Homo sapiens: one gene and its partner. The protein of the gene in region 1 interacts with the protein of each later gene in a pairwise test. Each region holds a gene or a part of one and is shown on either strand. Other genes may lie near its edges.

Region 1 (3,752 bases):
TCTCCGTTCATGGCACCGGGAGCAGTCTGACCTGCAAGAGAAATAGCCTGAGTCTTTCCAGCCACAGCAGCTTTGATCCTGTGGAGGGAGAAGTCAGTGAAGGCCGGCCACCCTCAGTCACCTGGAATCAGCTGCTGCATTTCTCCATCCGGGGCTTATCTGTCCCTGAGTAAGGATATGGGGAGAAATCAGATGAAAACAGGGAACCAGGGGTCTCTGGGAGAAGTATTGATAGGGAATGACAGGTTTCCTATGGGCAAAGCAGCCTTGAGTCTTTGGGAGGGGGTTGGCTAATGTTGTTAGTAGTTTCCCTGGAGCTAGGCTTACCCTGAAAGATGTACGGACCCTTTTTGGGGAGGCAGGGACATGACTGTGTAATTTTATTCAGTGGGGGCATGCTGACACCCCCACTCAATAAATAAAGGAAGGGAAGTTAGTCCCAGAGATAACATGGTCTCTTTGGCGATGGATCTGATCAGGCAGAGGGATGGGGGGTTCTGTTCTGTTGAAGAGAAATGAGCATCGCTAATATGAACGTGTTCAGAGGCTATTACTCGGTGATTTGTAAATTATTAGAAGGAAGAGAGCTAGAATTTCTGAGACTACAAGAGCCCGCCATCACTTAGAGAGAATGTGGGGCATTTCAAGATGCAGCAATCAGCCAGGCGCCGTGGCTCACGCCTGTAATCCCAGCACTTTGGGAGGCCGAGGCGTGCAGGCCGCTTGAGCCCAGGAGGTCGAGACCCGGCTGGGAAACACAGCAAAACCCCCGTCTACAAAATACACAAAAAGTTAGCTGGGGTTGGTGGAGCAGGCCTGTACCATCCCAGCACTTTGGAAGGCCAAGGTGGGCGGATCGCCTTAGCCCAGGAGCTTGAGACCAGGCTCGCAAACGTAGCAAAACCATCTCTACTAAAAAAAACAAACAAAATTTAGCAGAAGCGGGGTGGTGCGCGCCTGTAGCCCCAAGGCCTAGGCGAGAGGCTCACTTGAGCCCAGGAGGAAAGATTTGAGTGAGCTTTTTTGGTTTTTGTTTTTTCAGACAGGGTCTCGCTCTGTTGCCCAGTCGGGAGTGCACTGGCGTGATCATGGCTCACTGCAACCTCCGCCTCTTAGGTTCAGGCGATCCACCAGCTGTGGCTTCCAAAAGTGCAGGGATTACAAGTGTAAGCCACCACGCCCGGCCCAAATTTCTTAAGTTACTACAGAGTTCCTAGGAAAAATCCCGTACCTGAAAAAGTTAGAAACTGACAGGAAAGATTCGAGATGGCGGCCTGCCTCATATACACTCCTTATTAAAACTAGATAGCAAATGCACCGCGGAGGAGGGGAGGGGTAGGAAGAATGGAAAAAGAAAATCGGCGTATGCTTACTCTGATTTTGGAAGAATCCAAAGAGAAAATCAGACCGTGCGTACTCTGAGTATGGAAGAATCGAAAGAGAGAGAAAGTCAGAGCATGCGTACTCTGAACTTAAAGTAGCCAATCCCAGGGGATGCTTTAGGCGGGAAAATTAGAGTCTCCACCCCCACTTTGAGAAGGTTCCGTCCCTGGAGCCGGGACTGATAGAAGCCACATCCGCTTCGCTTGTTCCGCCTACTGTTCTGACTTCTAATTGGCCAGATGGAGTTCACTAACTGCCCTGATTGGTCCATCATCCTTGGGCAGTGACATAGCAGAATAATGTCTCCTCCTCCAGCCACACTTTGTTGCCACTGCGAAAAAGTGGGTGGTCCTCAGGCGCCGTCAGATTTTGAACTCTCTGAAGACCGTTCCTGGATCTTGGGTTAAAAATCTGGATTCTAGTCTGAACTGTGGGAAGAAAAAAATAGTCAATCTGTGATTTTTCTACTTGAAAGACACGATGTTTTCCAAACTAGCACATTTGCGGAGGTTTGCTATACTTAGTCGTGGCTTTCATTCTTCAGTGGCTTCTATGTCTGTTGCCACTGAAAAAACAGTCCAAGGCCCCGCAACCTCTGCTTACATTTTTGAAAGGGAATCTTAAGTATGGTGCGCACAATTACCATCCTTTACCTGTAGCCCTGAAGAGAGGAAAATGTATTTACTTATGGGATGTGATTGTGGTATTGGTTACATCTGCCTTGGCCAATCCTCCAGCCTCCGTCTTGGGACTACAGGCGCGAACCACCCTACCCCCACTAATATTTTTTATTTTTTGATTTTTTAATAGAGAAGGTTTCGCTGTGTTGGCCAGGCTGGTCTTGACGTCGTGGGCTCAAGCGATCCTCCCACCTCGGCCTCGGGACTACAGGCATTCACCACCCAGCCCACGCTTTTTTTTTTTTTTTTTTTTAAGTAGAAACCAGGTTTTGCTATGTTGGCCAGGCTGGTCTCATCGTCCTGGGCTCAAGGGATCCTTCCGCCATGGCCTCGAGACGACAGGCATGCACCACCCTGCCCACGCTTTTTTTTTTTTTTTTTTTTTTAGTAGAAACCGTGTTTCCCTATGTTGGCCAGGCCGGCATCAAGCTCCTGGACTCAAGGGATCCTCCCATCTCAGGACTACAGCCATGCACCACCCTGCCCAAGCTATTTTTTGTTTTGTTTTGTTTCGTTTTAGTGGAAACCGGGTTTCGATATGTTGCCCAGGCTGGCCTCAACCTCTCAGGCTCAGATGATGCTTCCACCTCGGCCTCAGAACTATAGGCGTGTGCCATTCTACCCCGCTCATTTTTATTTATTTATTTATTTATTTATTTTTTAGGAGAGGCAGGCTTTCGCTTTGTTGGCCAGGCTGGTATCAAACTCCTGGGCTCAAGCAATGCTCCCACCTTGGCCTCAAAACTACAGGAGTGAGCCACCCCGCCCACGCTATTTTTCTGTTGTTCTTGTTGTTAGCAGAAATGGGGTTTCGCTATGTTGGCCAGGCTGGCCTCGACCTCCTAGGCTCAAGCAATCCTCCCGCCTCGGCCTCGGGACTATGGGCTCACACCACCCCGCCCCCACTAATATTTTTAATTTTTCTATTAGAGACAGTTTCGCTATGTTGTCCAGGCTGGGCTCTACCTCTGGGACTCAAGTGATTCTCCCGCCTCGGCCTTGGGACTACAGGCATGCACCACCCTGCCTTTTGCTATGTTTCCCAGGTTGGTCTTGACCTCCTGGGCTCACTCAATGATTTGAACCCGGGAAGTGGAGGTTGCATTGAGCTGAGATCACACCACTGCACTCCAGCTTGGGCGACAGAGCAAGACTGAAAAAGAAAGAAAGAAAGAAAGAAAGAGCGAGAGAGAGACCAGCTGAATCTCCGTAAGAACAGTGAGCTTTGTGGTATTTTTACTTGCCCTCGTCCCATCTCATGCTCCCAGCTTGGTTCTGTTCATTGTTGATGAAATACAGATAGGATTGGCCAGAACTGGTAGATGGCTGGCTGTTGATCATGAAAATGTCAGTCCTGATATAGTCCTCCTTGGAAAGGCCCTTTCTGGAGGTTGATACTCTGTGTCTGCAGTGCTGTGGGACGATGGCATAATGCTGACCATTAAGCCAGGGGAACATGGGTCCACATACGGTGGCAATCCACTAGGCTGCTGAGTGACCATCGCAGCCCTTGAGGTTTTAGAACAAGAAAATCTTGCTGAAAATGCAGAAAAAAAAATGGGTATTATCGTGAGAAGTGAACCCATGAAGCTACCTTTTGATGTTGTAACTGCCATAAGAGGAACAGAATTATTATTATTGCTATTATTTTGAGTCAGAGGTTCATTCTGGTTGCCCAGGTTGGAGTGC
Region 2 (3,752 bases), on another chromosome or scaffold:
GTGCCTGGGTACCTAAAGGATTAAAAATATGTACATGAATCAAGTTATCCAGAAATATGCATATAAGTTACCAACCTGCCTCCACTCCCTTCCCCAAAAAGGTGGGTCACTTGTACACACATAATGTATCTCCTCCAAGCTTCAGCTTTGGAGCTTGGGATGAGAAAGAGACAACTCTCCAATGAATTCAAAGATGCTACTAAGTCAACATAAGAATGTCCAATACAATGCTTGTGGCAGAGGTCTCAATAAATTGGGTATGTATAAATGTATCTTGTCATGAAGACTGTTAAGCTTTTCATAATGATCAGAGTATCAATTTTAGTCAATACTTTTCCCAATATCTAACCATAGCATACACTAAATAACACTTGGTCAGCTTGTTTGCTATACCCTTGGAAATCAGTTACAAATTTAAACACTGGTTTTTACATTTTTACATTAAGCCTTAGGTTATGTATATTTTTTTTCTTTTTTTTTTTTTTTGGAGACCAAATCTTGCTTTGTTGCCCAGGCTAGAGTGCAGTGGCGTGACCTCGGCTCACTGCAACCTCCACCTCCTGAGTTCAAGCGATTCTCCTGCCTCAGCCTCCTGAGTAGCTGGGATTACAGGCACCCACCACCATGCCTGGCTAATTTTTTTGTATTTTTTTTTGAGACAGAGTCTCGCTCCGTTGCCCAGGCCAGAGTGCAGTGGCACAATCTCAGCTCACTGCCAGCTCCGCCTCCCGGGTTCACACCATTCTCCTGCCTCAGCCTCCCAAGTAGCTGGGACCACAGGCGCCTGCCACCACGCCTGGCTAATTTTTTGTATTTTTAGTAGAGACAGGGTTTCACCATGTTGGCCAGGCTAGTCTCCAACTAGCTGGTCTTGAACTCCTGACCTCATGATCTGCCCGCCTCAGCCTCCCAAAGTGCTGGGATTATAGGTGTGAGCCACCGCACTTGGTCATATTATGTAAATTATATATAACAAAGATGTCTATCTCAATGCAAAGAAGTCAAAGCCCTAAAAATGTCCATTTATCTCTGTTAAATATTAATACATTTAACAATTCCAGGCAGGTTTTCTCATATTCTTACCTATTCTGAAATGGTAAAGGGGACCTAATATAGTCCAGATCTGATCTTGAGCGATACGTAGTATGTCTTGGTTCTCCATATAACTCCAGCCCACCAGAAGAATGATAAAATGAGTCAGTCTTTTCTGCACCTAAAGTAACCCAAAATATTCCTTGTAAAGAAAAATAAAATCCCAAGACCTTAAAAAATTTCTACAAAATAGGTAACTGCTCAAAAGACTATTATACTATATTATACAATCTCCTATTTATAGTCATTTTCTATTATTCTTGATAAAGGAGAAAACAGTACAAACAAAAATTCGGCTTTCAAATGTTATTTTGTTTACTTTTGAATATGAGTATTTCTGATATCTGGAATTATGTCTCAAAGAAAATTATTTAATTGGCATATTTTCTTCTTTAAAGACCTTAGCTCTAAGTAGATGAGAGGTGAGGGGTGTCTGAGTGGGTGTGGCTTGTGGGAAATGATGTGGATAAAAAATATTAGACCAATGTAACCATTCCAATCTACTGACTTGAAACCAAGATTTGCTAACTTTTAATAAAACACAACTTATTATGGTACAAATTTCAGCTGTTTCAGTGTAATGATATTTCAAAATACTTTGTGTAGGGTACCAAATCTATTTCCCCTCTGTAGGATGCTCAGCTCCTGGTAGAGTATGTAAAGGTGGTTTACTATGAATACACAGCACAGGGATGCTGTGTCCTCTGTGTGCTCCCCAGATTCGGACCTCATCTTTATTGCCAGAAATGTTCAAGCCCTAGTTTGTTTCCACTTCTAGGTGTAGACAGAAGGAATTTTAGCTGTTACCATTATTATACAACCTGTTGGTAAACTCAGAAACTTGTTTGAATATTGTTAAATTATGAAAACTTCCTAATTCTTCCATATGACTAACAGCAATCCTGTCTTGAACCGTGCCTTAAATGCAGTTATGAAGAGTGTGGGCTCTGGACCCAGACTGCCAGTGTTTGGTCCTGGTTCCATCACTTCCCTACTGGCCATTCTGGGGCAAATGACTTGTGTTTTCCATGCCTCGATTTTTCATCTAAAAGTGAGAGTAGTAAAACTGTACTTATATCATAGGATTGGGAGAATACATGAAAAGAGCATGGCCAGGTGCAGACTAAGTTCTCCATGAAAATCAGTTATTATTACCCTCTTTAAAACAGTGAAGTTACCTAGTTTTGGCAGTTATAAGGGCTTTGTCTTTGGAAAACATTGCTTCCAGAATTCATTACTTGGTAAGTATTACACATGCAGTAATTCAGAGCAGCAGTCCCCAACCTTTTTGGCACCAGGGACACATTTCATGGAAGACAATTTTTCCATGGACCCAAAGGGGCCAGAATGGTTTCTGGATGAAACTGTTCCACCCCAGATAATCAGGCATTAGTTAGATTCTCATAAGGAGCACACAACCTAGATTCCTCACATGTGCAGTTCACAATAGGATTTGTGCTCCTATGAGAATCTAATGCCACGGCTGATCTGACAGGAGGTGGAGCTCGGGCAGTAATGCCCGCTGCTCACCTGCTGCTGTGCGGCCTGGTTCCTAACAGGCCACAGACAAGTATGGTCCATAGTCTGGGGGTGGGGGACCTCTGATTTAGAGAGTCATAAACATAAGAAAATATGCTATTTTGACTTCACCTTGATTCAGTCCAAAGCCATCTCTGTTAATATTGATGGAAACAGAACCTGTGACTCGATGCCACCGTCGAACCAAAAATTTCATTCTAAAAAAGATTCCAAGATAAAATTTCACAGCCCATCTATAAACAGTATATACATTTCCTACAAAAATCACATCACACGTTTAAATATGAACATAGAACAAATGTCAAATTTCACAATTGCCCAGTTAAACTATGTCAATGCCTGTTGTGACAAAATCAACTGGAACGGAAGAATAGGGACTCAAAATCCCCTCATCCCCTTCCCAAGAGGCATTAGAGGTCTCTTATATTGCCAGCATCAGGTTCCAGCTTGAGGGATAAATGGGGTATAAGGAGATGGAAGGCAAAAGTAGATGGGAAAAGCAGATAGGCAAAGAAAGGGTGAGAAGTAATGAAAAGAGAAAAGAACAGAGAATAAAGGGCAGATGAGATAAGAAGAGAACAAAAAGACCCTTAAATTGGCAATAAGAATGTGCTGGGAATGCTGCAAGGTGGGTGAAGCTCTTGTCCCTTTGATCAGGGACAAAAAAACGTTGGTTTCAAAAGGAATGGGAGTGTTAGCTTCATGACCCAGGTGCAGCAAGTTACGACCTTCTTCCCCATCTTGGCCCAAGGAGCTTTTGGAGCACCAGTTTTGATTTACTTTGAATCAGTTCCAAGGCTCCATCTTAGGAGGGTCAAAATATGATAAACATAATCTTGGATAAGAAAAAGTGGGGCAGAGTGAAGTATGTCAATAACAACTTCTACACCGCTCTCATGAAGCCTCTCTAGATCCCTCTAATCAAAATTACTAGCTAACTCCTGTGACCTCCCATTTACTTATTATATTCTAAGTTCTGTGCATATTAGTCTTCCCCACTAGAAAGTGAGCTGCCTTTAGGTATTTAGGCAGGATTATATATTTTTTCATCAATGCATCTACCAGCACTTACCCTGGTTTACTCTATACAAGGTGATGAAGGAAATGAAAGGTGAGGAAGA

The links. Proteins that work in one complex are often made in the same cells at the same time.
Region 2: the proteins of SSX2 (region 1) and AKAP9 interact in binary tests that used the Homo sapiens proteins (3 or more experiments, as listed by UniProt).

The regions. Positions count from the first base shown.
Region 1 is NC_000023.11:52,705,739-52,709,490, forward strand, and holds the start of SSX2 (protein SSX2), read right to left. Parts: upstream 1,441-3,752; 5' UTR 1,374-1,440; intron 32-1,373; 5' UTR 12-31; coding exon 1-11.
Region 2 is NC_000007.14:92,104,754-92,108,505, reverse strand, and holds part of AKAP9 (A-kinase anchor protein 9), read right to left. Parts: intron 2,829-3,752; coding exon 2,743-2,828; intron 1,214-2,742; coding exon 1,084-1,213; intron 13-1,083; coding exon 1-12. UniProt on the Homo sapiens protein: Scaffolding protein that assembles several protein kinases and phosphatases on the centrosome and Golgi apparatus. Required to maintain the integrity of the Golgi apparatus. Required for microtubule nucleation at the cis-side of the Golgi apparatus.